Homo sapiens: one gene and its partners. The protein of the gene in region 2 interacts with the protein of the main gene of each other region in a pairwise test. Each region holds a gene or a part of one and is shown on either strand. Other genes may lie near its edges. The genes, in order: CDKL3, LRP2BP, P4HA3 and C1orf50.

The links.
Region 1: the proteins of LRP2BP (region 2) and CDKL3 interact in binary tests that used the Homo sapiens proteins (3 or more experiments, as listed by UniProt).
Region 3: the proteins of LRP2BP (region 2) and P4HA3 interact in binary tests that used the Homo sapiens proteins (3 or more experiments, as listed by UniProt).
Region 4: the proteins of LRP2BP (region 2) and C1orf50 interact in binary tests that used the Homo sapiens proteins (3 or more experiments, as listed by UniProt).

The regions. Positions count from the first base shown.
Region 1 is NC_000005.10:134,357,169-134,364,193, forward strand, and holds part of CDKL3 (cyclin-dependent kinase-like 3), read right to left. Parts: intron 2,924-7,025; coding exon 2,729-2,923; intron 1-2,728.
Region 2 is NC_000004.12:185,364,905-185,371,929, forward strand, and holds part of LRP2BP (LRP2-binding protein), read right to left. Parts: intron 6,162-7,025; exon of another isoform or gene 6,054-6,161; intron 5,955-6,053; exon of another isoform or gene 5,911-5,954; coding exon 5,736-5,910; exon of another isoform or gene 5,731-5,735; intron 5,282-5,730; exon of another isoform or gene 4,891-5,281; coding exon of another isoform or gene 4,846-4,890; intron 2,342-4,845; coding exon 2,276-2,341; 3' UTR 1-2,275. UniProt on the Homo sapiens protein: May act as an adapter that regulates LRP2 function.
Region 3 is NC_000011.10:74,301,635-74,308,659, forward strand, and holds part of P4HA3 (prolyl 4-hydroxylase subunit alpha-3 isoform 1 precursor), read right to left. Parts: intron 2,779-7,025; coding exon 2,636-2,778; intron 959-2,635; coding exon 735-958; intron 1-734. UniProt on the Homo sapiens protein: Catalyzes the post-translational formation of 4-hydroxyproline in -Xaa-Pro-Gly- sequences in collagens and other proteins.
Region 4 is NC_000001.11:42,762,550-42,770,254, reverse strand, and holds the start of C1orf50 (uncharacterized protein C1orf50), read right to left. Parts: upstream 3,007-7,705; 5' UTR 2,944-3,006; coding exon 2,865-2,943; intron 2,747-2,864; coding exon 2,631-2,746; intron 1-2,630. Other genes in the region: P3H1 (prolyl 3-hydroxylase 1 isoform 3 precursor), read left to right, coding at 3,284-3,748.

The DNA of each region.
Region 1 (7,025 bases), on a different chromosome or scaffold from region 2:
GGCGCGGTGGCTCACGCCTGTAATCCCAGCACTTTGGGAGGCTAAGGTGGGCGGATCACGAGGTCAGGAGTTTGATATCAGCCTGACCAACACGGTGAAACCCCGTCTCTACTAAAAATACAAAAATTAGCCGGGCATGATGGCACGCACCTGTAAACCCAGTTACTTGGGAGGCTGAGGCAGGAGAATCACTTGAACCCAGGAGAAGGAGGCTGCAGTGAGATCACGCCATTGCACTCCAGCCTGGGCTACAGAGCAAGACTCTGTCTCAAAATAAAATAAAATAAAATAAAATAAAATAAAAATACAAAAATTAGCCGGGCCTGGTGGCAGGAGCCTGTAATCCCAGCTACTCAGGAGGGTGAAGCAGGAAGAATCGCTTGAACCCAGAAGGCGGAAGTTGCAGTGAGCCGAGATCCTGCCATTGTACTCCAGCCTGGGTGACAGAGAGAGACTCTGTCTCAAAAAAAAATACTGTAATAACCTCTGACTTCACCCTTTGTTTTCATCCCTCTCATATCTAATTACTTCCCAAGTCCTGTGATTTTCCTTTTGAAATATTTCCATCCTATCCCTCTGCCATCCTTCCTCTCCTTCCCATTGCTACTTAGTCCAAACCGTTACCACCCACACATCTAGATTGTCACAACAGCTACCTGTCTGATCTCTCTGGGTCTCTATCTACTCATATCTTCTACTCATGTTAAAATAAAATTAGATTTTGTTTTCATCCAGTCACAGCAATGCTCAAGAACCTTCAATGGGCTGGATGTGGTGGCATGTGCCTGTAGTCCTAGCAACTTGGGAGGCTGAGGCAGGAGGATCACTTGAGCCCAGAAGTTGGAGGCTGCAGTGAGCTATGATCATGCTACTGCACTCCCATCTGGGCAACAAAGCAAGATCCTGTCTCAAGAAAAACAAAAATAAAAAAACAACAAAATCTTCAGTAGTTTCCCAGGATCTTCAGGAAAGAGTCCACCCTCCTGTGGGTAAATTTCAAGGTTCTGGAAAATCTCTCCCCTGTGAACCTGTGTAATCTTATCTTCCTCTATCTGTTGTTCCCTGTAACCTGACTTAACAGCACTCTCTGAAGTCCCCTGCTCCGGTCTACTTCTATTTTCACAATGGTACCCCACCTGAATGCATTTTCTCCTCTACTCCAACAAAATCCTAGCTACAGTTCAAAATTCTACTTACTTTAGTTTTACCTCATCTTGGAAGTCTTCTACTGTCAGTTTAGCCCAGACTGAGATCTCCTTTTATTCAAGAAACATTTTTAGAGTCTAATATAGACAAGGCTCTAAACAGATACAAAGATAACACCACTATTCTTGACTCCCTACCAGCTTTCTTTTCTTTTCCTTTTTTTTCTTTTCTTTCCTTAACACAACTATTAATATTCCTCACTCCAAACCAGCTTGCTATATTTATTTATTTATTTATTTATTTTATTTACTTACTTACAGAATCTTGCTCTGTCAACCAGGATGCAGTGGTGCAATCATAGCTTACTGCAGCCTTGACCTCCCAGGCTCAAACAATCCTCCTACCTCGGCCTCACAAGTAGCCGGGAGTACAGGATTGTGCACGATGCCTGATGCCCAGCTAATTTATTTTTTATTTTTAGTAGAGACAAGGTCTTGCTATGTTGCCCAGGCTGGGCTTGAACTTTTGAGCTCAAGTGATCCTCCTGCCTCAGCCTCTCAAAATGCTGAGATTAGAGGTGTGAGCTACTATAGCCAGCCTACCAGCACTATCTACTGAGCACTTAAAATGTGCCTGACACAGTTTAAATGCTTTATACCTAGTACCTAATTTGATCTTTTAAAAAATCTGTGCCAGGTGCAGTAGCTCACACCTGTAATCCAGCATTTTGGGAGGCTGAGGCGGGCAAATCACTTGAGCCCAGGAGTTTGAGACCAGCCTGGGTAACATGGGAAAACCCCATCTCTACAAAATATTGGCCAGGTGTGGTGGTTGATTGAGGAGGAGCACCGTCATCTCGGACAAACACCGAGATGTTTTAAGGAGAGGCAGGAGAATTGCTTGAACCCAGGAGGCAGAGGTTGCAGTGAGCCAAGATCATGCCATTGTACTCCAGCCTGGGCAACGAGAGCAAAACTCCATCTCAAAAACCAACCAACCAACCAAACAAAAAACCTGCTGAGCTAAACACTTACAAGCCAATGCTAAAGTCAACACTAAACATCAGAATAGCTGTGATCTTTCCTCTTCCTTGATTTTTCATAGGTTAAATGACAAGGCCTCAAACCGCTCCGCCACTTTATATCTCCTTTCTTCCCCTAAAGGCATCCACAATTTACTTACTATTCCCCCCGCCTTTTTTTTTGTGAGGCGGAGTCTTGCTAAACCTCCCTTTATATGAGCAACTCTCCATTAAGCCACAGACCTGACTTTCAATGTTTTAATATACTTTCTCTAATAATAGTGCTCCAGCTGACTACTGATTCTACTAAACAAAATTACTGATACTGCCTTTACCATCCCATACTTGGTCTGCCTTATAGTTGGAATTACTGAGTGCTCAATATTTTTTGGTTCTGCAACTAAAAGGTAGTGCCCCCTATTCCCTATCCCCATTTTCAGGATGTCTATTATTATTGTATAGAAAAAGAATGTTAGCCACCTTCATAAAAATAAAACAATGTATAAGGAGCACTTATGATTCATATTCATCCTACAAATTGGCTTATTCTGAAGCACTTACATTATTACTGTGAAGATAGTCAATTGCTCGAAGGATCTGGAAGAGGTATTTTCTAAGTCGCTTACTCTCTAGTCCATGACAATAATGTTGTAACTCATCTAATACTGTGTGGTCAATAAATTCAAATACCAAATGAATTTTCTTTTTCTGTCTAAAAACTTCAATCAGATTGACCAGGTTTTCGTGATGAAATTGCTATTGACAAAAGAAACAACACAAATTTTTAATTATTTCAAGCCTAACAATTTGTACATATAACGTGTAAATTTTGTAAAGAAACAGTCATATTCTTAGCTTTGTTCCATGCATTTCTTTTTTCTTTTTTTTGAGATGGAGTCTTGCTCTGTCGCCAGGCTGGAGTGCAGTAGCACAATCTTGGCTCAGTGCAACCTCCACCACCCTATTTCAATCAATCCTCCTGCCTCAGCCTCCTGAACAGCTGGGATTACAAGCGTGCACCACCATGCCCAGCTCATTTTTGTACTTTTAGTAGAAACAGGGTTTCACCATGTTGGCCAGGCTGGTCTTGAACTCCTGACCTCAGGTGATCCTCCTGCCTCAGCCTCCCCAACTCCTGGAATTGTAGGTGTGCACCATCATGCCCAGCCTATGTTCCATGCATTTCAACTGAAATTTCTCAACCAATGTGCTTCCATTCCTATTTTAAGAAAATGTAATCCATTTTATAATCAATATTTATAGGACAAAGTGAGATATATTACTTTATCTCAAGTTGGCATTTGGTTGCTTATTAAAATAATTTAATGTACTATAACTTAGTATTCTGTTGAAAGATATCCTGCTATTTTTAAACTTGGTTTGTGGTTAAATTTAACACCCAAAATTTAAAAGGCCCTTATGTTTTCAAATGAGCATGGATTTCAACACGATTAAGTATGTGATCTGAATTTATATAAATTAATTATTCTCTAATTTTAAACCTAAACTCTAGAAAGTAAACCATAAGTTCTAGGGAGCATCATAAATTCATTAGACTATAACAAAAGAACACCAAAATATATGCAAAATCTTCAGATATGTGAACTACCAATTTATAACCACAGAAACTTTACATAAATATGTAATTATTTGTGGGTGAACGTTTGCTCCTTGTCTGTACTCTTCTATTAAACAATTAACCACCTTTTTAGACTGGCAACAATTATTGCTAAAATAATTTTAAAATGTAAATGATGCCCATGTATCAGCTTAGGAAACAAATGAGATTTAATATTGTATGCTACTTATTCTATTTTTCATCACACTGACTTAATTATAATCAATTCTGAAATATTTAACCATTTTGTTCAAACTATCAAGAATATGTGTTCAATTAGCTAAAAATGAAGGGTTTTTTTTTGTTTTTTTTTTTAAGAGAACAAGTCTTGCTATATTGCCAGGCTGGTCTCGAACTCCTGGCCTCAAGTGATCTTCCTGCCTTGGCCTCCCAAGTTGCTAGGACTACAGGCATGAGCCACTGTTCCTAGCTCTAGAAAACTATACCTTTATGAAAATATATTTGCCTTCATTCCAATAACACAGTGTCAATTTTTCTACTTCTCTGTAACTAACGAAGAGACTAAAGTCCTTAAAACATGACTAGAGAAAAACATCCAAAATATAACACCAGATTCCTTTCCTTTTTGCTCCAAATTTCCCTGGTTGGCAAGATGCCACAGTGCTGCAGCAATAGCATATTGACAGCAGTGAAAAGAATTGACTGTTGGCTGGGCATGGTGGTGCACACCTATAATCCCAGCACTTTGGGAGGCTGAGGCGGGCAAATCACATGAGGTCAGGAGTTCGAGACCAGCCTGGTCAACATGGTGAAACACCGTCTCTACTAAAAACACAAAAATTAGACCAGCGTGGTGGTGGGCACCTGTAATCCCAGCTACTAGAGAGATTAAGAGAGGAGAATCGCTTGAACCCAGGAGGTGGAGGTTGCAGTGAGCCGAGATTGTGCCATCGCACTCCAGCCGGGGTGACAAGAGTGAAACTCCGTCTCAAGGAATTGATTGCTTTTGGACACTACCATATTAATCCTCTACTTAAGGAAAATTACTGGTTTCCTGTCCAGTCTTTATTTTAAAGGCAAAAGCAGTGAAAGTAGGGAAGGGGTAATATGAATAAGCATTGTAGAAGATCCATTCAGGGATGAGGAATTAGGTACAGTATTTACTCAGATAAACCATGAAATGAAATCCCTAGAAATGCTCTAGTACCCCTCTTCAAGTTGTTTAATTTTTTCTCCATTACTAGACAACTTTTCTACAGATATTCTCACTAATTACTCTAACTGTAATTTATTTAATGAAATTCTAGCATAAAAATTTAGTTTGGGTCAGGCCGGTGGCTCACTTCTATAATCCCAGCACTTTGGTAGGCCAAGGCAGGCGGATCACCTGAGGTCGGGAGTTCGAGATCAGCCTGACCAACATGGAGAAACGCTGTCTCTACTAAAAATACAAAATTAGCCTGGCATGATGGTCCATGCCTGTAATCCCAGCTACTCAGGAGGCTGAGGCAGGAGAATCGCTTGAACCCGGGAGGCCGAGGTTGTGGTGAGCTGAGATTGTGCCATTACACTGCAGCCTGGGCAACAAGAGTGAAACTCTGTCTAAAAAAAAAGTAATTTGAATTAAGTAATTATGACAAGTTTTTTAGACTAAGAATATTAACTAGTCCAAGAAATCTCTCCAGTGGAATTAGATTACATCAAATTTAAAATCCTATAAAAAGCCAGTGAGTGCCAGGTGCAGTGGCTCACACCTGTAATCTCAGTACTTTGGGAGGCTGAGGTGGGCAGATCACATGAAGCCAGGAGTTCTAAATCAGCCTGGGCAACATGGTGAAACCCCGTCTCTACTAAAAATACAAAAATTAGCTGGGCGTGGTCGTACGTGCCTGTAATCCCAGCTACTTGGAGGCTGAGGCATGAGAATTGCTTGAACCTGGGAGGCAGAGGTTGCAGTGAGCCAGGATCGTGCCACTGCACTCCAGCCTGGGCGACAGACAGAGTAAGACTGTCTCAGAACAATAACAACAACAATAACAAAAAGCCAATGAGAATAGTTAGGGTATCTCAAAATTATCTGCATAACAGTTGTTACAGTAAAACACATATTCAAGTTCATCTCTGTATTGTCACATACTGGTTAGTTTTCCAAAATGATTAAATAGAAAAAAAATAATCAATTTAAGTGCAACAGTTGAAGAAAGAGCAAGAGATACTGCCTTGGGGGAAAAAAATCTCCTAATCAGATTTTCATTCACAGTACACAATTGCCTTATCTATAGTATTATGTTTTAGGTCATCAGGACATGAACTGATATCTTTCACAAAATCATAACATCTTTACTGACTCACTTTTCATTGTCTAGAAATAGAGCTGTTCTATTTATTTATTTATTTGAGATGGAGTCTCGCTCTGCTGCCCAGGCTGGAGTGCAGTGGCGTGGTCTCGGCTCACTGAAACCTCCGCCTCCCGGGTTCAAGTGATTCTCCTGCCTCAGCCTCTTGTGTAGCTGGGATTACAGGCCCCTGCCACCATGGCCGGCTTTTTTTTTTTTTTTTTTTTTGAGACAGAGTCTCACTCTGTCGCCCAGACTGGAGTGCAGTGGCGCAATCTCAGCTCACTGCAACCTCCTCCTCCTGGGTTCAAGCAATTCTCCTACCTCAGCCTCCCGAGTAGCTGGGACTACAGGCACACACTGCCATGCCTGGCTAATTTTTTGTGTTTTAGTAGAGACAGGGTTTCACCATGTTGCCCAGGCTGGTCTCGAACTCCTGAGCTCAGGCAATCCGCCCGCCTCGGCCTCCCAAAGTGCTAGGATTACTGGCGTGAACCACCGCGCCCAGCGTAGAGCCATTCTAATAATCCACAGATGCCTAATATATTTCCTCAAATTAGGCCAGGCACAGTGGCTCATGCCTGTAATCCTAGCTCTTTCACAGGTCCAAGACAGGAAGATCGCTTAAGCCCAGGTGATGGAGGCTGCAGTGAGCTATGATCATGCCACTGCGCTGCAGCCTGGGCAACAGGGAGACTCCATTTCTTAAAAAAAAAAAAAAAAAAAAAGAGAGAGAAAGAAGGCAAATTGATCCATCATATCTCATATAGACTTACAAAGAAAGAAGAAAATATTATTTTTGTATCAGATAAAGCAAACAAGAACATCTGCTGCATATGAAACAGCTATACTATATCGTCAAGATCATAAACCTTAAAGGATGTAAATAGATTCCAATAAATAGAATACATACTTATTTAAATATTTTTAAAATCATTAATTT
Region 2 (7,025 bases):
GCGAATGAGAAAGATCACTATTATTTTGTCTCTATATTTATTTATGATAAAATGTCATTTTTCCATGAGATATCAGCTACAAGGAATCTTAGAGAAGGAGTGTGTGTGTGTGTATGTGTGTGTGTGTGTGTGTGTGTAAGAGTAATGATCTGGAAGTCTCAATGCACTCGAGTTACAGACTCACCGCAGTCTCAGGTCAAGGGGTTTACTACTGTCCTCAGCAGTGGTAGTTTGCAGGGACTCGCTTGTGCCAGAGCATTAGCTTTATGGTAACTAGAGTAAACTGAAATTTTAAATTCTGCATTGGATTTATAGAAGACATATAAGCATAGCATGTTACCATGTATGGCACACGTCAAAGTTTATGATTTCTGAAACCCATCTTTAATGGCAGTTTAAAAAGTGCTCTTTACTTAGGGCCGATCTTTTATTATGTTCCTATTTTAAGATTCTTTTTATTTTTTTTTGAGATGGAGTCTCGCTCTTGTCACCGAGGCTGGAGTGCAATTTGCGCGATCTCAGCTCACTGCAACCTCTGCCTCCTGGTTTCAAGCAGTTCTTCTGTCTCAGCCTCCCGAGTAGCTGGGACTACAGGCGTCCGCCATCACGCCCGGCTAATTTTTGTATTTTTAGTAGAGACGGGGTTTCACCACGTTGGCCAGCCTGGTCTCAAACTCCTGACCTCATGATCTGCCCGCCTCAGCCTCCCAAAGTGCTGGGATTACAGACGTGAGCCACTGCGCCGGGCTAAGATTAGGTCAGGAGACTCCGTCTCAAAAAAAAAAAAATAATAATAATAATAATAATAATAATCTTTAGGAACTGGATTAAGTGTGGAGAAGAGAATACTAGTTGGGAATTTGGATCTTCAAGTGGTTGAAGGAATGTTACATGGGTGGTATTAAGAGATTTGAGACAGAAATACATGACCATTTGAGGATATCTCAAACCCGAGTCTGTTGAAATTTCTTCCCTTACACAAAGACAAAATGAAGTTCAGGCAATACAGACAAGCCAGAACATAAAACGAGAGCAAATACTTTTCTGCCATTCAACAGTTCTTAGTGACTATCACCTCCATATTAATTGCATTTTCCCATTACTAAAAAGAAATCTTGTTTAAATCCACTGTTGGGATGGTTGTGATTTATAAAATAAAGCCACATCCTTTAATATGTTTATAAAAAAAGGAATAGTTAAGGTATCTCTGAGACCTGTCTTCGATATGTATATTTGTTTCACAAATGAATAGCCTTGTACAATCTTATGCATATGGATCTTACTGTTTTTACTGTCACCTTTTGCCTTCATAGATGTCATCTATATACGGAAAGCCTTTTGCTAATTTTAACAATATTTAATTGTAGTTCTTGTAAATGATTTCATTGAGGCTTTTACCACAGGGTTTTAAAAATATGGAAAATGAGCTGAAGCACAAAGAAACAATTTGCTTTACTTTTCTTACGAATATTTTCATATAGCAATTGCTTTTTGTTTTATTACACATTCTGCATATGTATGTAGCAGTTGTTTTACTCATTAAGATCTTTGAGGGAAGATTTGGAGGGGCAAGATTCTAAAGCAATGTCTTATAACCCACTTTTTTGAAGTTTATATGTAATAAGCCAATTATTTATGAGCTTTTTAAGAATAAAGGATGTCTCAAAAGGCTTAGTGCAGTTTTAGCTTTAATAACTTCAGAAGTAGAAATGCTGCACACACTTATTTAAGTTTAATTCTTTAAATGTCTTTTACCCTTAGTTTTGTGAAATTTTAAATTTTTAAAATTTTAAATGACTGAAAATTTAAATTTTAAATGACTGAAACAAAATTTAAACATTATTATTCAAAATTCACAAAACTAAGAGACAAATTTAAAGAATTAAACTTTCAAATGATGGTTTTAAATAAGTTTGTTTCTACTTCTGAACTTACTAAACTAAAGCTAAACTAAGTATTTTTGGAGACTCGGTGTTTAAGAAAGGATAAACGATACTTGCTGTATAGAATGGTTTTAATACTTGATATGGTCTCGGCCAGTCTGTAGGGTAAGAGGTGGACCTCTGAGGACTCTTCCAGCAATTTGACCTTGTGTCTAGGTTTCAAGTTGCAAAACTTAACAGCGTACGAATTCAAGAACGAAGTAACATGTCACCTGTAAAATACCCAGGATAGTGTAATTTGTGATGTGCAAAATAACCAAACATAGCTACTGTAAAAATACACACATTGTGAGGTGTTAGCATTGATGATCTTTGTTGAAATACATTGTGGTCTAAATTCTTTGACGAATAAGTAAGGAGTGAAGTTCATCTGCCAATGCGGGATTCAGACGACAAGCCTTAAAATCAAAAAGAGTCAGATATTTAGATACATTCTAATTGTTTGGGTCTTTCTTCTTTTTTTTTTTTTCTTTTTTGATTCATTTTTAAGAATAGTAAAGTACAGTGAATTTCAAGAAAATTTGTTAAGATACTTTCTATTCTGATGTCCTACTTTAACCTATGCAGAATAGATCAATACTCAAAATAACCATGTTATTCTCATTTGAAAGAGATATTTTATCAATGCCAAGAATAAAGGGAACTTAAGCACCAATGATAGCATTGTATGTTATGAATTATTAAAATAAGTAAAATGGAGAGCATTAACATTTGGCCTCAAAGTTGTTATGATCTCATTATGTGAATAACAGCATCTGTAAAATTTTATTTTAAAATATACAGCTAAAATAATTTTATTATGTCTAAATAGTGACAAGGTGCATAATTTCTAGAATGTCAACAATTTGGGATATAGAGCTCTCATCCAAACCCCATTCTATGCAGTAATTGTCCCTTCAGTACCCACGACAGTTGGTCACTAGGTATTTGCTTGGTTGCTTCCAGTAGCAGGAAGTTACACATTCTACATATGTAGAAGTTTTCACCTTCAGAGAAAACTTGTGTTTTTCTTTGTTTCCTGAACTGTTGTGTTAGAAAACTCTCCCTTATGGCCGGGCGCGGTAGCTCACACCTGTAATCCCAGCACTTTGGGAGGCCGAGGTGGATGGATCACGAGGTCAGGAGATCGAGACCATCCCGGCTAACACAGTGAAACTCCGTCTCTACTAAAAATACAAAAATTAGCCAGGCGTGGTGGTGGGCGCCTGTGGTGCCAGCTACTCGGGAGGCTGAGCCAGGAGAATGGCGTGAACCTGGGAGGCGGAGCTTGCAGAGAGCCGAGATTGCGCCACTGCACTCCAGCCTGGGCAACAGAGCCAGACTCCGTCTCAAAAAAAAGAAAACTTTCCCTTATTTTAGGCTGGTGTTTCTCTCCATGTACTCCAGAATCCTCGAAGGGTCCTAACAGAATACATAATGCTGGTTTCACAGAAACCTAACACTCTAGGAAGTGGGAGTCACCCTGCCTGACGGTGGCAGAGCCGAGAGCAGGCCTGGGTCTGTCGCCTCCAGGTCCCAGTTACCATCTTACTGCCTCACCTTCTGCCATAACACACTGCCTGCCATGGGCACTGATTCTGCTCCCTCCCAACCTGTTCCCTTCCTGCGGGACACTGCCTCTCCCTCCCAACCCGTTCCCTTCCTGCGGGACACTGCCGGTCCAGTGAACACCGCTGTCGGGACACCTTGTGTCCTTTTGCTCTGAGGGAGACCATTTCTGTTCCTCATATCATGCGTCATATGATATCATTCCAGACCCTTCACTGGTTTACTGCCTCTAAATGATCTCCATTTTATCAGTATCCCCATAATGTACAATGGCCTAAACTGAGTACAGTATTCTAGATGTGTATCCTAGAGTCCTAGAGTACAGTATCCTAGTTGCAGAGTAATGGGGCTATTTTCTCCCATCGTATGGAAAATCGTTCTCAGATTGGAATCTGTTTTGTTTTTTTTTTTTTTTTGAGATGGAGTCTCACTGTGTTGCCCAGGCTGGAGTGCAGCGGCACAGCCTCGGCTCACTGCAGCCTCCTCCTTGCAGGTTCAAGCGATTCTCATGCCTCAGCCTCCCGAGTAGCTGGGACTATGGACATGCGTTACCATGATGGGCTAATTTTTGTATTTCTAGTAGAGATGGGATTTTGCCATATTGGACAGGTTGGTCTCACACTCTTGGCCTCAGGTAATCCTCCCACCTCGGCCTCCCAAAGTGCTGGGATTACAGGCATGAGCCACGGTACCTGGACTTTTTTTGTTGTTCTAGTCAGGATGACTATATAGTATATTTCAAAATATATTTGACTAGAGTTTTCTAAGGATATTAAGGATAGGATAGAACCTGAAATCGGCTTGGTTTGGAAATTGATGTAATACAGAGAGCTTTTTTTTTTTTTTTTTTTTTGAGACAGAGTCCCAGGCTGGAGTGCAGTGGTGTGATCTCGGCTCACTGCAACCTCTGCTCCCAGGTTGAAGCAATTCTCCTGCCTCAGCCTCGCGAGTAGCTGGGTTTACAGGCACACATTGCCATGCCTGGCTAATTTTATTTTTCAGTAGAGACAGGATTATTTAGTATTTTTAGTAGAGACCCAGTTTCACCATGTTGGCCAGGCTGGTCTCGAACTCCTGACCTCAAGTGATCTGCCTGCCTCAGCCTCCCGAAGTGCTGGGATTACAGGCATGAACCACTGTGCCTGGCCAGTACAGAGAACATTTAAATGAAAAAAGTTAGACAACTGTTATTCATGCTAAGAATGGTGTAGAGGTAAATATCTTAAAGATCAGTTGCATTTGGCTGTGTGCTATGTGTCTATGTTTATGTTTTAATATGGCTTTGATGCTCTGGAAGTTTTAATTTTAAAGTAATTTAGGGTTCCCAAACTTACCTGACATTGGAATCCCACAGGGAACTTCAACAAATACGCTTCTGTCTCCTAGAGACCATGATTGAAATTTTCTGAAATAAGGCCTGAACTTTGGAATTTGTAAAAGATCCTCGGGTGATTTTAACATGCAGAGAAGCTTGGGAACCACTGCTGTAATATCAGAGTCAGCCAAGGGACTCAGAAGACTCCCCCACTCAGGCTGAACAATCTGTGTTCCACAAACACTGCTCTACCAAGTCTGCTATGATGTAATTCTGACTCGTGGATGTGATGGACCTAAGATGTGCACAGCTTTTTGGTTTTTCTTTTTTTAAAAAAAATCTAAACTTAAGAGTTAGTACTCATAATGATCTCCCTTACACCCCCTCCACTACCACACCCCTTGCTTTTTAGTATTTACTTTGAGATGTGAAACGCATTTGGGATCTAAATAAATTGATCACATGGATTAAAATATGAAAGACTTATTTTAACTGATTACCTCAAACTCAAAAATATCCCGCCTAAGTGGGGTAGATGTCACGCTCAAAAAAACTTTAAACTCTGTACTAGAATAAAAAACTTCATTACTGTACTAGAATGAACGTATACATTCACACTTGTTCTAGATGAAAGAAAAACTGTTCAGCTTTAAGGTCTTGGTGCTGGGCCTTAGGCTGCAGATAGTAGCAGAATGAAAGAGTAATTTGCATCAAAATAGGACTTTTAATCATTGGAGCTAAATTATGCTAATAAGATTCTGACAGAATTGTCTGCAAACAATCTGCATGTCTGACAGCTTCTCTGTAGACAGAGGTTATCTGCACAGTAATTGAGTAGAAAAAACACTAATCCGTAAAACTATTCAAGTTGCAGCTAAAAGCCTGGCAGTTTCTCTTTGGGTGAATTTATATTTTGTTCTAAAGCTTACTTTAGAATAATAGTGTTTAGCGGTTGTTTCATCCCTGGTGATGCCCAAGCCAAGCTGAAGACACCTTGCGTGGTAGAAGGATGCCATTGCCATGCCTCTGCCGATGAACTCCGGGAGACAGTCTGTGACCTGGGCGATCATGGGGATGTCGTGAACCTCATCATAGTCAGCGATCCTGAGAGGATGTAGAGTTGTGAAATGGAAAAGACATCAGTTATGGTAAGTGTTTGTAAAACGATGCGCCTAGAGACTGTCCTTGTGCCTGAAGTGATTTCTCTCTACTGCTTTGAGAACTAAGTTGTTTGCTGTGTGGGGAAGGGTCCATGTAGGCACCTCATACCAGGAGAAGATGAGCTTCCCAGAGTGGTGACTTCACATGTCTCTGTAATTATGCTCAGCAGGCTCAATAACCACTGGAAAACAAAGGTATGTTTCTTTTTTCTTCTAATATTACTACTGGAAGTTTAATGTCACTTTGTGGATTTAAACTGAACGGAGAAGAAAGCATTTTCTATTTCTTTGGATCACGTATGGAAACATCAACCTTCAGTTTGGACGTTAGCCACATAGGACCAGAAAACCCTTTCACTAGCACATCTTCTTTAAAAATAGACAATTGGCTGGGCGCGGTGGCTCACGCCTGTAATCCCAGCACTTTGGGAGGCCAAGGCAGGCGGATCACGAGGTTAGGAGATTGAGACCATCCTGGCTAACATGGTGAAACCCCGTCTCTACTAAAAAAGATACAAAAAATTAGCTGGGCATGGTAGCGGGTGCCTGTAGTCCCAGCTACTCGGGAGGCTGAGGCAGGAGAATGGCGTGAACCCGGAAGGCAGAGCTTGCAGTGAGCCGAGATCGCACCACTGCACTCCAGCCTGGGCAACAGAGCGAGACTCCGTCTAAAAAAAAAAAAAAAAAAAAAAAGGATAATGGAAAGAAGTCATCCTTTATACCCAGACACAAATATGTACAATTGTGTGAGAATGTGATCCAGTCAACTCCATGTTAACCTCAATGTCATAGGGAGTAGGGATGTGGAAAATAAGGGAAAGCGCCGAAGATTTTAAAGAATGATTTAAAGTCTTAGTTCTAACTAAGATGGGCACTTGCTTTGAGACACTGGCAATCACTCCTGTAAGTGGTCTGCTGCCTGGAGCCCGAGACGCTGGGGAAGCGGGGTAGAAGCAGCCCCTCCTTCCCTTCATCCTCTCTTGTAGATGACTGCCCTGAGCTAGGGCTCGGAGAGGGGGGAGACCTGGCGCTGTGGGAAGGGTGTGATTGGGAAACACC
Region 3 (7,025 bases), on a different chromosome or scaffold from region 2:
AGTTAAAATGGATTTGCTCCATTGCTTTTTATAGCAAAGGCTGGCAAAGAGTATATTACAAAATGATCTCACGTGTGATTACAACTTATAATCAAAGATCAGTTAAATACCTCAGATGGGGGGCGGGGGTGTTCCTGAAGTCTATTTCCTCAAGTAATGTTAAAGTGAATGGCCTTAGATTTTGGACACTACTTTAATTTTGTACTTCCAAATGCTTAGGAAATGTTGCATTGGATTCCAGAAAGTCTCAGGAGGCTGTTTCCGTGATCTTACCTTTCCATCACCATCTCTTATCCTTTTCCCCAACCTTGCGTCCCTGACCCCCTGCTTTCCCTTTCTACCCAGGAGTTCATGCACTGGCAGGGTGCTATAGTTAGGGTGAACAAAGGACCATTTTTCCTAGTTCATGTCTGTTGTTCTAGCATAATTAATAACACCCCTTTCAATCTCAAGAGTGTTCTAAGTATATAAACACCTTAACTACTATGGAAAGGGCCTGAGATTTGGAGTCAAAAGACTGGGTTCAAGCTTTAGTTCTGCCCTTAAAATTGCATAATCTTAGGGCAAGTTATTTACCCTCTCTGAATCTTGTTTTCTTTCTCTGAAAATGGAAATGATATCAAATTTCCAAGTTTACTGTAAGTATTAAAAAGAAGTAAAATCAATCGGTACATAGTTATTTTATCCATAAGAAACCAGAGCCAAGCAATTGGCCCTCTCTTGAATATTGTTACCTTGCCAACTTGGAAGCAGTCATCCCCTGTGAGAGAAAAGAGCCGTTTGGGGCTGTACAGGTCAGTGATGGCAGAGCCAGTGACTCTCTGAAAGACACCTCGGGCCAGGCCTTTCACATTGAGCATGTACACGTCCTGCAGCCGCATCAGGGCCCTTGCTGCTCCCTCAAGGTCCTCAAAGGCTGGAAGGTCTTGCTCCACCTTCTCATAGCCATCCTTCAGAGCTGTAAAAGTAGTAAAAACATCAACCCAGCATTCAAGAAACAGGAGTTGGGCATTTAATACATGTAAGGCATGACCACCTGTTCAAATATTTAATGACATCAAGTTGGATTTGTCTTTGTGTTCCCAGAGGCAAGCACAGTTCCTGGCACAGGGTGGATGCTTAATGCAATTCTGAATGAGGAACATTCAGAATGAGTGAATGAGGAATAAAAATTAAGGCATACAGCTTCATTATATTGTCCTATCCTGTATGTTTACAGGAGTCTCACTCTTTAGGGAGACAACTCTTCTTTTTCTTTTTCTTTTTTTCTTTTTCTTTTCTTTTCTTTTTTTCTCTTCTCTCCTCTTTTCTTTCTTTTCTTTCTTTCTTTTAATAGAGATAGGATCTTGTTCTGTTGCCTAGGCTGGAGCACACTGGCATGATCATAGCTCACTATAATCTTGAATTCCTGGGCTCAAGTGAGCCTCTCACCTCAGCCTTCTGAGTAGGCAGGACTTCAGGCACACGCCATCACATCCATCTAATTTAAATAAATTTTTTTGTAGAGACAGGGTCTTGCTATGTTGCCCAGGCTGGTCTCAAACTTCTGGCCTCAAGTGATCCTTCCAACTCAAGCTCCCAAAGTGTTGAGATTATTGGCATGAGCAACCACACCCAGACTCTTCTCACTGTTAGCTTTCCAAAAATCAACAAACTTCTTTTTTTTTTTTTTTTTTTTGAGACAGGGTCTTGCTCAGTCGCCCAGGCTAGAGAGCAGTGGCGCAATCTCAGCTCACTGCAACCTCCACCTTCTGGGTTCAAGCAATTCTTGTGCCTCAGCTTCCCAAGTCTACAGGCATGCGCCACCATGCCTGGCTAATTTTTGTTATTTTTAATAGGTTTCGCTATATTGCCCAGGCTAGTCTCGAACTCCTGAGCTCAAGCAATCTTAGCCTCCCAAAGTGCTGGGATTACAGGCATGAACCACTGTGCCCAGCCCAAAAGTCAACACTTTTTTTTTTTTTGAGACAAAGTCTCGCTCTGTCACCCCAGGCTGGAGTGCAGTGGTGCGATCTTGGCTCACTGCAACCTCTGCCTCCCGGATTCAAGCAATTCTCCTGCCTCAGCTCCCGAGTAGCTGGGATTACAGGCATGTAATCCCACGACTCCCCGGTAATTTTTGTATTTTTGATAGCGACAGGGTTTCACTATGTTGGTTAGGCTGGTCTGGAACTCCTGACCTCAAGTGATCAGCCCACCTCAGCCTCCCAAAGTGCTGCAATACAGGTGTGAGCCACCGCGCCTGGCCGTCAACAAACTTCTTACAGCACAAAGTAGAATAAATTAGGAAAGTGATCTTGCTATAGATGACACTGTAGTGACAATTTAATGAAACAGAAACTACTAGAAGACCGTTATTTTCTATACATATATAAATGGAAGGCTTGTACTTTGTCACAGGATTGTAGTGAACATCAAATGAGACAATTGATATGAAAGTGCTTTCTAAGGTATAATCATATAAACTGATTAGCAAGCGGGCCTAATTCTTTGTGCTAGCTAGAGCTAAGGATATTAAGTAATACCCACCTACTCCATTACCCTTTGAAATCACATCCCAACAGAATCTCTCTCCTTACCACCGAGTCAGGAGATAGAATCTTCTCTCTTACCCTCCAGCCCTCCTCCTCATTACCTCGGATGTTCTCACTGGCCTCCAGACTATGTACCACATTCCTCCAGTCAGACTGCAGGCGTTTGATGAGAGTAAATGCAAGCAGAGGGTTAGCCACAGGGGTTGTTGAATCCTCATGCAAAGAAAGTACCTTGTCGTAGAATCTGAAAGAAAGGAGTAGAATGATCTCACCTCCTGATACAACCACTACACCTAGGGAAGGCTGGCATGGTGTGTGTACATTAAGAGTAGCTAACACTGACATGCTGAACCTCTTGAGATTCACATAATAGTCCAACCAAAAAGCCATGCAAGCCCAAAGAATATGAAAACTATAGATACAACAAAAGTAGGTCCACTCTTTTGTTCACTGAATGAGTCAGTCTATATTAATCAATTACTGTATTTCAGGCACCATGCTAGAGATATAAAGGCAAGACAGGGTCCAGCTCTCAAAGGGATCACAAAGTCTTTTTCTCCTGTCATCACTGTATATGCAATACTTAGTATCTGGTAGAAACTCAAAAACACTATTGAATTAATTATAACCACTGTGATATGTGCTATATAGTGGTCCCCAACCTTTTTGGCACCAGGGACTAGTTTCATGGAAAACAATTTTTTCCACGGACCGGGGGGTTGGGGGATGGTTTCGGGATGAAACTGTTCCACCTCAGATCATCAGGTACCAGTTAGATTCCTATAAGGAGCACACAACCTAGATCCCTCACATGTGCAGTTCACAATAAGGTTCACGCTCCTATGAGAATCTAATGCCGTGGCTGATCTGACAGGAGGTGGAGCTCAAAGAGTAATGCTCCCTTGCCCACCACTCACCTCCTGCTGGGGGGCCCGCCTCCTAACAGGCCATGGACTGGTACCGGTCCCTGGCCCAGGGGTTGGGGACCTCTCTGCTATGAGAGAAGTGAGCATATAATGCTGCAGCTGTGCAGGCAGGGCAGCTCATCCAGGTGGGAGTTAGAAGGGGGAAGGAAAGGCTTCCAAGAAGAGATGGCATGTGATCTGAATCTTGAATGATTTGTTAAAATACTGAAAGCTATTACTTATTGAGCTCCTACCATGTATTGGCCTGTTGGGTGCTCTAAATAGATTGTCTCATTTAATTACCCCCCACCTTCCAACCGACCCTTAGTGTAGATTTAATTTTACCCATTCCACAGAGAGGAAACTGAAACAAAGCCACACTGTTAGTAAAGGGCAAAGCCAGGATGGAACCCAAGTCTGACTAACTCCAAAACCTGGGTTCGCAGCTGATTATGCTATATGGTTTCTTAAGGAGCTAGAACAAAGAAGAGAAGAAGAGTATTTTTCAAGCCAACAGGAACCATTAGTGTACAAAGGCACAGAGGCTTGAGATATATTTGTAGTAAGTCAATCTACACGAGTTATTTGCTAGATGTCAGACTCCATGCTAGATTCTAGGGATACAAAGGCAAGACGAGGTCTAATACTCAAGGATTTCATGGATAAGAAAATAACTTTTTTTCTCATCATTCTATACCTAAATTCAATACATATTTCTATGAAAGAAAGAATGAAGTATACTCTCCTAGGAGCTAGGGACAAAATTCTGAATAAGGAAATAATCTTGGTCTCAAGGATCCACAGTTTAGTGAGTAAGAAAGACACAAATAATTACATTACAGATGCAATACCAGATTTAAGAACAAGGCTTAGTGGGGAGGACAGAGAGGGGATGATTAATTTGGCCAGAGCAGGTTAGAGAAGGCTTTAAGTGAGAGTGGTACTGTTGAAACTATGACTTGTTCACATATATAAATGTGTGAGAGGGTGGGGAGGAGGCCACTTCAAAACTGCAAGCACAAGACAAGGAGACTCTGAACCACGACAGCGATGGAGAATGGACTGGGTTCAAGGAAGGAGTTTAGGAAGTGGTGATGACTGTAAAGGGGAATAAGAGGTGGGATCGTCCAGCACACTTCCAACCTTTCTAGCTTGGCAACAAATGCAGAAAAGGGCAGAAATGGTAGGGCCTGAAGTGATCATCTTTCCAGTTAATTTCCCTTCTCCAGTGTCCTTCAACAGTGTTTATATAGGCAAAAGATGCTGTTTCCTTTCCTAGTATACTCTGGTTAATTCCATTTCTAAAACACCAATGGAATTTATATTACTGAAATTTATTATCTATAACAGGGCAGATTAAGGTACTATTCCTGCTCTCCAAGAGTTTTCCCGCTCGTTTTAAAATTATCAACTTCAAAAATAGTATAACAAGAATGGAAGTAGAAGAAAAAAAAGTTTGTGCAAAGTGAAAAAAAATGAACGTGTGCAAGAGCACAGGAGACTATGAGTCCTTTGGCAAGAGTGGGCGACTTCTGCGAGGAGACAGAGATGAAAGTGAAAAATAGAGGAAGTGGCAAGGTGGTAGGATTTCAACCCCTTGGAGCAGAGTCTTATCTGAGGATTTCTAAAGAGTGAGGTCCTCAACTATGAAATGAAGCCTGAAATAGAAGACGACTGCCTTGAGGCTTCCAAGGAGCCAAATGTTCAATTCAACATAAACTAAGGAACAAGAACCTGGACCTGGGTCTCCCAGTGGGGAAATGGGAAGCCTGTCAAGTCCCAGGGTGTCTCTGATCCCAAAGACAAGGCAGTCTGTGAGCTGAAGCTCTAGGGTTTTGAAATGAAACCAGCCTCCAGGGTGTGGGATCTTTACTACCCATTGTCTCCTGCTTTGGCTCCGTATGGAACTACTTAGGGAAAGATACTCCACTGCTTGATGAAAAATCTTAACAAGCGGAGACTTGGGCTTGAGTCCAGCTTAAAGAGTAGGTGTCCAGGAACAATTGAGGCTGAGAGGGCAGTGATTTTATAAGACAGCTGGATAGGAAGGAACTGGGACTTATTCTGACCCAGCCTCCAACTATCACTCAGTTTCCTCATCCATAAAATGAAGGAACTGATCTAGTCTAGAAGATTTCTATGGATCTTTTCAGCATGAACATTCTGTTATTTCTTCTCATCACCCCCTCCACAACTGAATAAACAGATTCCTCATTAGCTTGAGGACTAATGTTTAATAGGAATCAGAGGACACTGAGGCACAAAGGTAAAGTGGTAAAGCAGAGAGGTGAATATTTGCCCCAAGTCATGCATCAAATCAAAAGTGCTGTCTACTTCCTTGTTTTCTTAGCACCCCTCTTTGCATTTTGGGGTTGATTTGTTTAGGTCAGGGTTTGATCTCTATTGCAGCACATCAATTCAATCCAGTGTTTAGATATGCCATTTTTCTGTCACACAAAGAAAAAAAATCTCTCAACTGATAACTGAGGTTGGCTTAGAATCCAAAAGTTGGCCCTATGCCCAGCCTCTGAGCACATAGCGGTTTCCAGAGACTGGAAACTGAGTTACTGGATGCTGAATTCAAACCTCAGGGTTTCCTAAATGTCTTTTTGCTTTAACAAATACTGCTGAGAATGGAAAATCAGATCCTTTCCTTCAAGAATCTGCACATAAAATTTGCAACCCAATCCCTGCATTAAACATAGCCTGGGCAGGTTATCCAACCACAATACATGGGCTATTTCACTTCAATATGTTTTGCCTTTGGAATTCAGAAATGGTTTTGTATCAGTTCTTCTGGGACATTATTAATGCTTAATCCTTAGCACAGAAAAAATTGCTGCTGACACTTCTCTCTCACTCTTGGTGGTGTTTTAAACTGCAAAAACAGCAACAACAAAAGCTAGGATAAACTCTTTTTATATATATAACTAGTATATGTACCATACTGGCATATAACTATATATACTATAACAAGTATAATTTTTATTCATTAACTTGGAGTAGGGAGTAGTTTCAACCTCAAGAATACTGCATTTTTCTATCTCAACTGAGAGCCTTGGAAATAGCCTCTCAAGTTACATAAAATCACCAGATTGGGAGTATAGAAAAATTAGCAAGAACTGCCAAAATTCTTGTTTTAAAAGGCAAACATAAAGGCTGGGCACGGTAGCTCATGCTTGCAATCCCAACACTTTGGGAGCCCGAGGAGGGAGGATCACTTCAGGTCAGGAGTTCAAGACCAGTCTGGGCAAGAGAGCAAGACCCCGTCTCTACCAAATCAAACCAAACCAAACAAAAACAAAAACAAAAAAACCCTAGCCAGGCATGGTGGTGTGCACCCGTAGTCCTAGTTACTTGGTAGGCTTAGGCAGAAGGATCACTTGAGCCAGGGGTTTGAGGTTATAGTGAGCTATGATAGAGCCACTGCACTCTAGCCTGGGTGACAGAGCAAGACCCTGTCTCTTAAAAAGCAAACATTTCACTGGGTTTTAGAGCAGTCACTAGAGAACAGAATGACAGAATGACAGTCTTCAAAATATCAAACTAAACTACAAAATTAACTGTTCATAAGTCACCTGAGAAA
Region 4 (7,705 bases), on a different chromosome or scaffold from region 2:
GGATTAGTCTGAGGTCCAAAAAAAGGAAAAAAGAAACAAACAAAAAAAATGCAAAATATTTCACGAACAACTTAAAAACAAAAGAGCCTCATAAAAAAGAAAGGAAGGGAAGAGTACCTACAACTACTAAGCACTAACCCTGGCCTCAACTACTCTGAGGCCCTTTACATTCATCTCATTTACTTCTCACAACACCTTTATGACGCTGGAGATGATAACCTCACTTTCTCATTTTAGCAATTAAGACTCACAGACATGAGGCAACCTGTCCAAGGTTTCACAGATAATAAACAGCAAAGGATCTGAACACAGGTCAGATTCCAAAATTCATGCCTTAATACCAGGCCTCCTGAGCTTTCTGAACACACACCAATACCTGGGTCAGTCTTGCTAAAAAAGTACTTTTTTTTTTGAGACGGAGTCTTACTTTGTCACCCAGGCTGGAGTGAAGTGGCACAATCTCCACTCACTGCAACATCTGCCTCCCAGGTTCAAGTGATTCTCCGGCCTCAGCCTCATGAGTAGCTGGAATTACGGGCGTCTGCCACCATGCCCGGCTAATTTTTTGTATTTTTAGTAGAGACAGGGTTTCACTATGTTGGCCAGGCTGGTCTTGAATTCCTGATCTCGTGATCCACCCGCCTTGGCCTCCCAAAGTGCTCGGATTACAAGCGTGAGCCACTGCACCCAGCCCACCACCATTTTTTTTTCTTTTTAGACTTGCTCTGTCACCCAGGCTGGAGTGCAGTGGTGTGATCTCAGCTCACTGCAACCTCTGCCTCCCAGGTTCAAGCAGTTCTCCCGCCTCAGCCTCCAGAGTAGCTTCGGACTACAGGCACACACCACCATGCCCGGCTAATTTTTTGTATTTTAGTAGAGACAGGGTTTCACATGTCGCCCAGGTTGGTCTCCAACTCCTGAGCTCAGGCAATCCTCCCGCCTTAGCCTCCCAAAGTGCTAAGATTACAGGCGTGAGCCACCACACCCAGCCTCATTTTTTTGTTTTTTTTTAAGAGTCTCACTCTGTCACCAATTCTGGAGTACAGTGGTGCGATCTCGGCTCACTGCAACCTCTGTCTCCTGGGCTCAAGCGATTCTCATGCCTCAGCCTCCCGAGTAGCTGAGACTACAGGCATGAGTCACCACACCTTTTAGTAGAGACGGGGTTTCACCATGTTGGCCAGACTGGTCTCGAACTCCTGACTTCAAATGATCCACCCACCTTGGCCTCCCAAAGTGCTGGGATTACAAGTGTGAGCCACGGCACCTGGCCAAAAAGTACATTTTAGATAGTTAATATGTTTGATTCAATTTGTTTGTCTCTAAAGTTTTTTTTTTCTTCAGCTTCTCAAATACAGATTGTATTGGGGAAACAGAGGCAGCATAATAATGCATCCTCTGTATTTCATAAGATTATAGGATGAAAGACAAAAACTGTGTTCTTTCTTCCATCTGTTCAGGCCATCGTAATAAACACGATAGTCATTCAATAGCACATGAATACGTTGTGTGCACAAGATTCTGTCCCTGCCAACCTCCCTCCCAATAAGAGTAATCTGATTAACTAGATGCATATTCTCTTAATAAATAAAAGTTGCACTTTGCTCCCCAGCTCTTCAAAAAGAAGAAAGCCAAGTTTTGAATTAAAGGAGCTTTCTGCGTATCTGAATTTTTCTTAATTTTAAAAAAAAAAGGATTCGAAGGATTTCTAGGATCATTGAAAAAAAAAGAGATGTGAGGGAATTTGAGCACATTAAATAATTTTGGGCAAAGCAAAGACCCTGGAACATAATCAAGGCCAAATCTGATAGTGTATACAGGGATAAGGGGCCATGATAATCTTTAAAACAGCAGGACCCTCCATCTGTGGACACTGAAGAGGGTGTACAACTGGAAGTCTTGATAAGAGATAAGAAGGAATCTGGTTTTTCATTGAATAATGACAAAACTTTAGATCTTGGAGCTCTACTACTTCAAACCTTTCACTTCACAGATAAAATAGTTGAGGTCCAGAGAGAAGTAATCTGCCTTAAGTCGCACTGCAAGTTAGTATCAAAAGTGGGATTAATACTCATGTGTCCAAACTTCCAGTGTTTTTTCCATTATTTCACATTTCCTCCTTATTTGACTTATTTTGGCCATCCATATATAAACACTGGGCTTGGGAATACTGTGTTTAATGAGGACTAAACTTGGAGTCCTTGCCCTGCTAGAAGATGTTTAAACTCTCAGGTAACAAAGATCTTATGGGAAGCAGCTTAAAATAAGCGGACCTTGAAACTTCCCGAAGAACTTTTCTTTGTGTCAAATGGGAAGAATAACTCTGTACTGCCTACCTCACAAGGCTGTCCTAAGGTGCAAATGAAATAATGAACACTAAAGTGTTGTGTAAACCTTCCCACGAAGGAAGATTATGGGCACTCAAGTTGCAGTTAGAGGAACCTTTGGTCCCAGAAGGTCATTCGAATCAGGCCACCGACTCACAATGACAGTCGGCTTTACTCGTCTGTAAAATGGAGACAAGAGCAAATGCCACCCCCACCATAGGTGGTAGTGAGGTCTGAGCCGAAAGACGCAGAGTACAACGTGAACGAAGATGGTTATTCGCTGCCCCGGCCGCGCCTCCTCACCTTCTGCACCTGCTCTGCGAGCGCCACGAGGTCTAAGGGGTCCCCGGCCCGGTGGGTGTGGTAGGGGCTCACCAGGGCCAGGCCGCCGGGGGTCGGGGTGAGCTCCACCAGGGCTCCTGCGACACACACCCAGGAACACAAGCCGTGAGCTCCCGCCGTCGGCCTCCCGCGGAGCCCCGAGACCGGCTGCCTCGCGGGAGCTGACTTCCCCCTGCTGACTCCCGCCCCGCATACCTCCCTGGCCTGCAGCTGGCGGCGCTCCTTGCCTTTCAAGGACCCCCTCGGTCCGCCCCGGCGCGGCGGCGTCCTCCATGACAGCGCCTTATCCTCCCCACTCCCTGGGCTGTGCGAGTAGGAAGAGCCTGCGCATAAAGGCGCGTGGGCGGAGCTTCCGTCTTTCTTGTCTACTGGGCGTCAGTTCGACTGAGCAAGGCCTGAGCTCGGAGGCGGGGCTCCGGCTGACGCGCCGGGATTCGCTGAGGGCCGGTGGGGGGATCCGGGCTGACTGAAAGGAAAAGAGGCGGTGCAAGCCTCGTGGGCATGCGCCGCCCGGCTTGGAAGGTGGGGCTTCGCCCGGGGGCGGGCCTTCGCCGGGGGTAGGACTCCGGCCTTGGTGGCGGGTGGCTGGCGGTTCCGTTAGGTCTGAGGGAGCGATGGCGGTACGCGCGTTGAAGCTGCTGACCACACTGCTGGCTGTCGTGGCCGCTGCCTCCCAAGCCGAGGTCGAGTCCGAGGCAGGATGGGGCATGGTGACGCCTGATCTGCTCTTCGCCGAGGGGACCGCAGCCTACGCGCGCGGGGACTGGCCCGGGGTGGTCCTGAGCATGGAACGGGCGCTGCGCTCCCGGGCAGCCCTCCGCGCCCTTCGCCTGCGCTGCCGCACCCAGTGTGCCGCCGACTTCCCGTGGGAGCTGGACCCCGACTGGTCCCCCAGCCCGGCCCAGGCCTCGGGCGCCGCCGCCCTGCGCGACCTGAGCTTCTTCGGGGGCCTTCTGCGTCGCGCTGCCTGCCTGCGCCGCTGCCTCGGGCCGCCGGCCGCCCACTCGCTCAGCGAAGAGATGGAGCTGGAGTTCCGCAAGCGGAGCCCCTACAACTACCTGCAGGTCGCCTACTTCAAGGTGCAGACCTGCCTGGAACCAGGCGGCCGGGGTCCTTCTGGGGAGAGGAGTGTTGCAGGGGACCTGAGGAGCTTGGGGGATCGGGGAAGTGTCCGCAGGGAGGGGAAAGTGGCCTCCTGGCTGGGGAGCTCTCCTCGGAGCCGGGGAGAGCTGCTCCCTGGCAGGAGACCTTCCTCGCCCAGTTCGCATGGGCAGATGCTAACCCCAAAGGTCCAGCCTGGGGTTAGGGCACAGGCCAAGCAAAACTCATGGCCATTTTGTTCCCTGGGAAATCTCCTGGAAGGAATTAAAGCGGCAGTTTGGGTCTCCCATTCTGATGTCATTGTAAGTGTCCGAGTGAGAAGCTAGTAGCGGTCTACAATATCTCCCTTCCGGTTGGTTTTCCAGTGGTGCTTTTCCTGCTGTTTGATTCAGCAGCTCTCTTTCAGGATGTGAGGTTGCCACGTCGCCAGCAGGGGCTGCCTGGCCCTTTCTGTGTGTGTGTGGGGGCGGGGGGGGGACCCTCTGGCTAGTCTGCCAGGTTTACAAAGAAAATGAGTATTTTTCGGAATGCCAGAGTGCCATGTGTCCAAGTGTACACTTGGGCTTGGAGCGTTCCAGGCTTGTTTGGTGGTGGTGATGGTGACGATGATGATGATGATGATAGCCAGCACATACTTCCAGGCACTATTTTAAGCAGTTTGCATTTATTAACGCATTTGCCCTAATCTTCATAATATCTTGTCAGGTAGATGCTGTTATTAGTCCCACTGTATTGGGGGTGGGGGGAGAAAGAGTTGTGCATTATATCTGGTATATCTGTTGTTTAAAAGACCTTCGATTCGATCTAAAGAGACACTTAGAGACTCTTGGGGACCTCAGATTTCCACCCCTCCACAGCATTCTGCCTACACAGTTCCCCTCATTTTTCCTAGTTACTCGGAAGAGCGCTGGACTTGAAATCAAAATAATTGCGTTATGTCTTTGGTTATGTCGCTTCATCATAGCACTTTCTAAAACTATTTGACAAACATGTATTGCATACCTACTGCATTCCAGTTCTTGTACAAGTAATTAAATGCTCGACTAACGTCTTTGCTTTGTCTTGCTTTGCTGTTAAGAGTTACTGTAGTAAGGGCTACTGCAAGGGCATATACTTAGGGCTGCGGGAGCACAAAGGAGGGAGACTCTAGCTTTATCTCAGAGAAATTAGACTTCAAAGAAGAGGTAATATTGAAGCCTGCCCTAAGTATTGCCAGGGGGAGAGGAAAGAAGGCTCCTCCAGATAGAGAGAAAAGTAGAACCAAAGCATGATGTATTCAGGAAAAAAAATGAACTCTTGTGATTGCAATGTCGAGATGTGTGTGGGGAGTAGTAGGAGAGGCGGCTAGAAAAGTCAGTGAGGCCAGATTTGGAAGAGAATTCTGCGGACTGCAGGGAGCCATCCTCAGATTTGGGTTTTAAAACGCTTATTCTGGAAGCCATGGTGAATGAGCCTTGGAAGAAGGAGAAAGTGGTGGCACTTGATTAGGAGGCAGACATTTGTCCACAAGAGAGGAGGTTAAGTACCTCAGTGCTTAGAGAGTAAAGAAGGCTGGGGGTGGAGAGAGGAGTGAGGACATGAGGGAGAACAGAGAAAGGCAGGAGCAGCGCTGAAAGACACAAGAGCTAGAGTAATTCCATGAAAGGGACAGACCTGAAAAAATTTCTAATTTTACAGTTAAAGAAACTGAGGTACAGAGATGGGGAGTTATTTACCTTGGGTCACCTAACCAGGGCTGACTCCTTTAGTGTGCCTTTACTAGTACCAATGATAAGAAAATAAGTTTTCTTAGCATATTAATCATACCACCTAAAATTTATTGAGCACTTAATCTGTGCCCAGCACCATGTATTACAGGCTGCATATTATCTCGTTGAACTCTCAACAATGCTAGGAGATAGCTAGAGAATGCTATCTCCAGATGATAGATTAGGGAAACTGAGTTTAGAAAGTAAACTTTAAGTATCTTGTCTACTGCCCAGCCAGTCAGTGAGTCATTAAGCCCAGATGTGATGCTGGCCTGTCTCTTTTCTTTCTTTCTTTTTTTTTTTTTTTTTTTTTGAGATGGAGTCTCGCTGTTGCCAGGCTGGAGTGCAGTGGCGACCTTGGCTTACTGCAACCTCTGACTTCTGGTTTTCTGGTTCAAGTGACTCCCCTACCTCAGCCTCCCGAGTAGCTGGGATTACAGGCACGTGCCATCACATCCGGCTAATTTTTGTATTTTTAGTAGAGATGGGGTTTCTCCATATTGGCCAGGATGGTCTGGATCTCCTGACCTTGTGATCCACCTGCCTCGGCCTCCCAAAGTGCGGGATTACAGGCGTGAGCCACCGCACCCAGCCCTCTTTTCTTTTGAGACGGAGTTTCGCTCTTGTTGCCCAAGCTAGAGTGCAATGGTGCGATCTCGGCTCACTGCAACCTCCGCCTCCTGGGTTCAAGCGATTCTCCTGCCTCAGCCTCCTGAGTAGCTGGGATTACAGGCACATGCCACCACGCCCAGCTATTGTTGGTCTCAAACTCCTGACCTCATGATCCGCTGGTCTCAAACTCCTGACCTCATGATCCGCCCGCCTCAGCCTCCCAAAGTGCTGGGATTATAGGCGTGAACCCCCGTGCCTGGCCACGGCTGGTCTCTTTGATACCAGTGTCCACATAGTTAATTACTAGATCATCAGTGATTTATTTGGTTGGATTCTATATATGAAACCTGTGTTACTTTGACATGCTGGAGTCCATTGCTGTGGGCATTGTGGTCTGTAGCCTATTTCTCCCCCCTTGGATTTCTTTTTTTTTTTTTTTTTTTTTTTTTTTTGAGACAAGAGTCTCGCTCTGTCACCCAGGCTGGAGTATGGTGCTGTGATCTCGGCTCGCTGTAACCTCCGCCTCCCGGGTTCAAGCGATTCTCCTGCTTCAGCCTCCCAAGAAGCTGGGATTACGGGTGTGCGCCACAACGCCCAGCTAATTTTTGTATTTTTAGTAGAGACGGGGTTTCACCATGTTGGCCAGGCTGGTCTCAAACTCCTGACCTCAAGAGATCTGCCCCCTTCGGCCTCCCAAAGTGCTGGGATTACAGGCATGAGCTACCGCCCCCGACCACCCCCTCAGATTTCTTAGAGCTATTTGTTTGAACCTCATGAGCCCTGAGCTTTGAGTCAGAAAATACTATGTCTGGACTTAGTAAAGGACCTTAGAATTTTTAGCCATCCACCTTTTCCCTAAATGTCTCAAAAATTCTTCATTTTATTTTATGCAAAAAAAAATTTTTTTCTAGGAAAATTCTTAGGCATAGTCTGTTAGCTGCTCTTTTTTCTCTACCCCTAAATCCTTGAAGCCACAGAATTTCTTCAGCTCAGGCATTACATTTGATTCATGAAATATATATATGTATTTTTTTTTTTTTGAGTCAGGGTCCTGCTGTGTCACCCAAGCTGGAGTGCTGTGGCACCATCTTGGCTCACTGCAACCTCTGCTTCCCAGGCCCAAGCGTCCTCCCACCTCAGCCTGCAGAGTAGCTGGGACTACAGGCATATAGTACCATGTAATTTTTGTATTTTTCGTAAAGACAGGGTTTCACCATGTTGCCCAGACTGGTCTTGAACTCCTGAGCTCAAGTGATCCACCTGCCTCGGCCTCTAAAAATGCTGGGATTACAGACCTGAGCCACCGCACCCAGCATGAAAACATATTATGTGGGCAGTCAGTCTTTCACAGCACTCCCCATACAATATGACCTTTGTTTTAAAATGGAACATTGCTACTTCCTGTAATCTGGGGAACCCCTAAATCTGACTTGGGAAAGAGCTACAAATCTGCCCAGGGCACTATGCTCCTAATCTGTCGTGGGTAGTTCCTGCAATAGGTGTGCTTCCTGGGGCTGGCAGGGGCTGGGCACGCTGAGTGGAGGGCTCAGGGAGGCAGGGATTTCCTGTTTATGT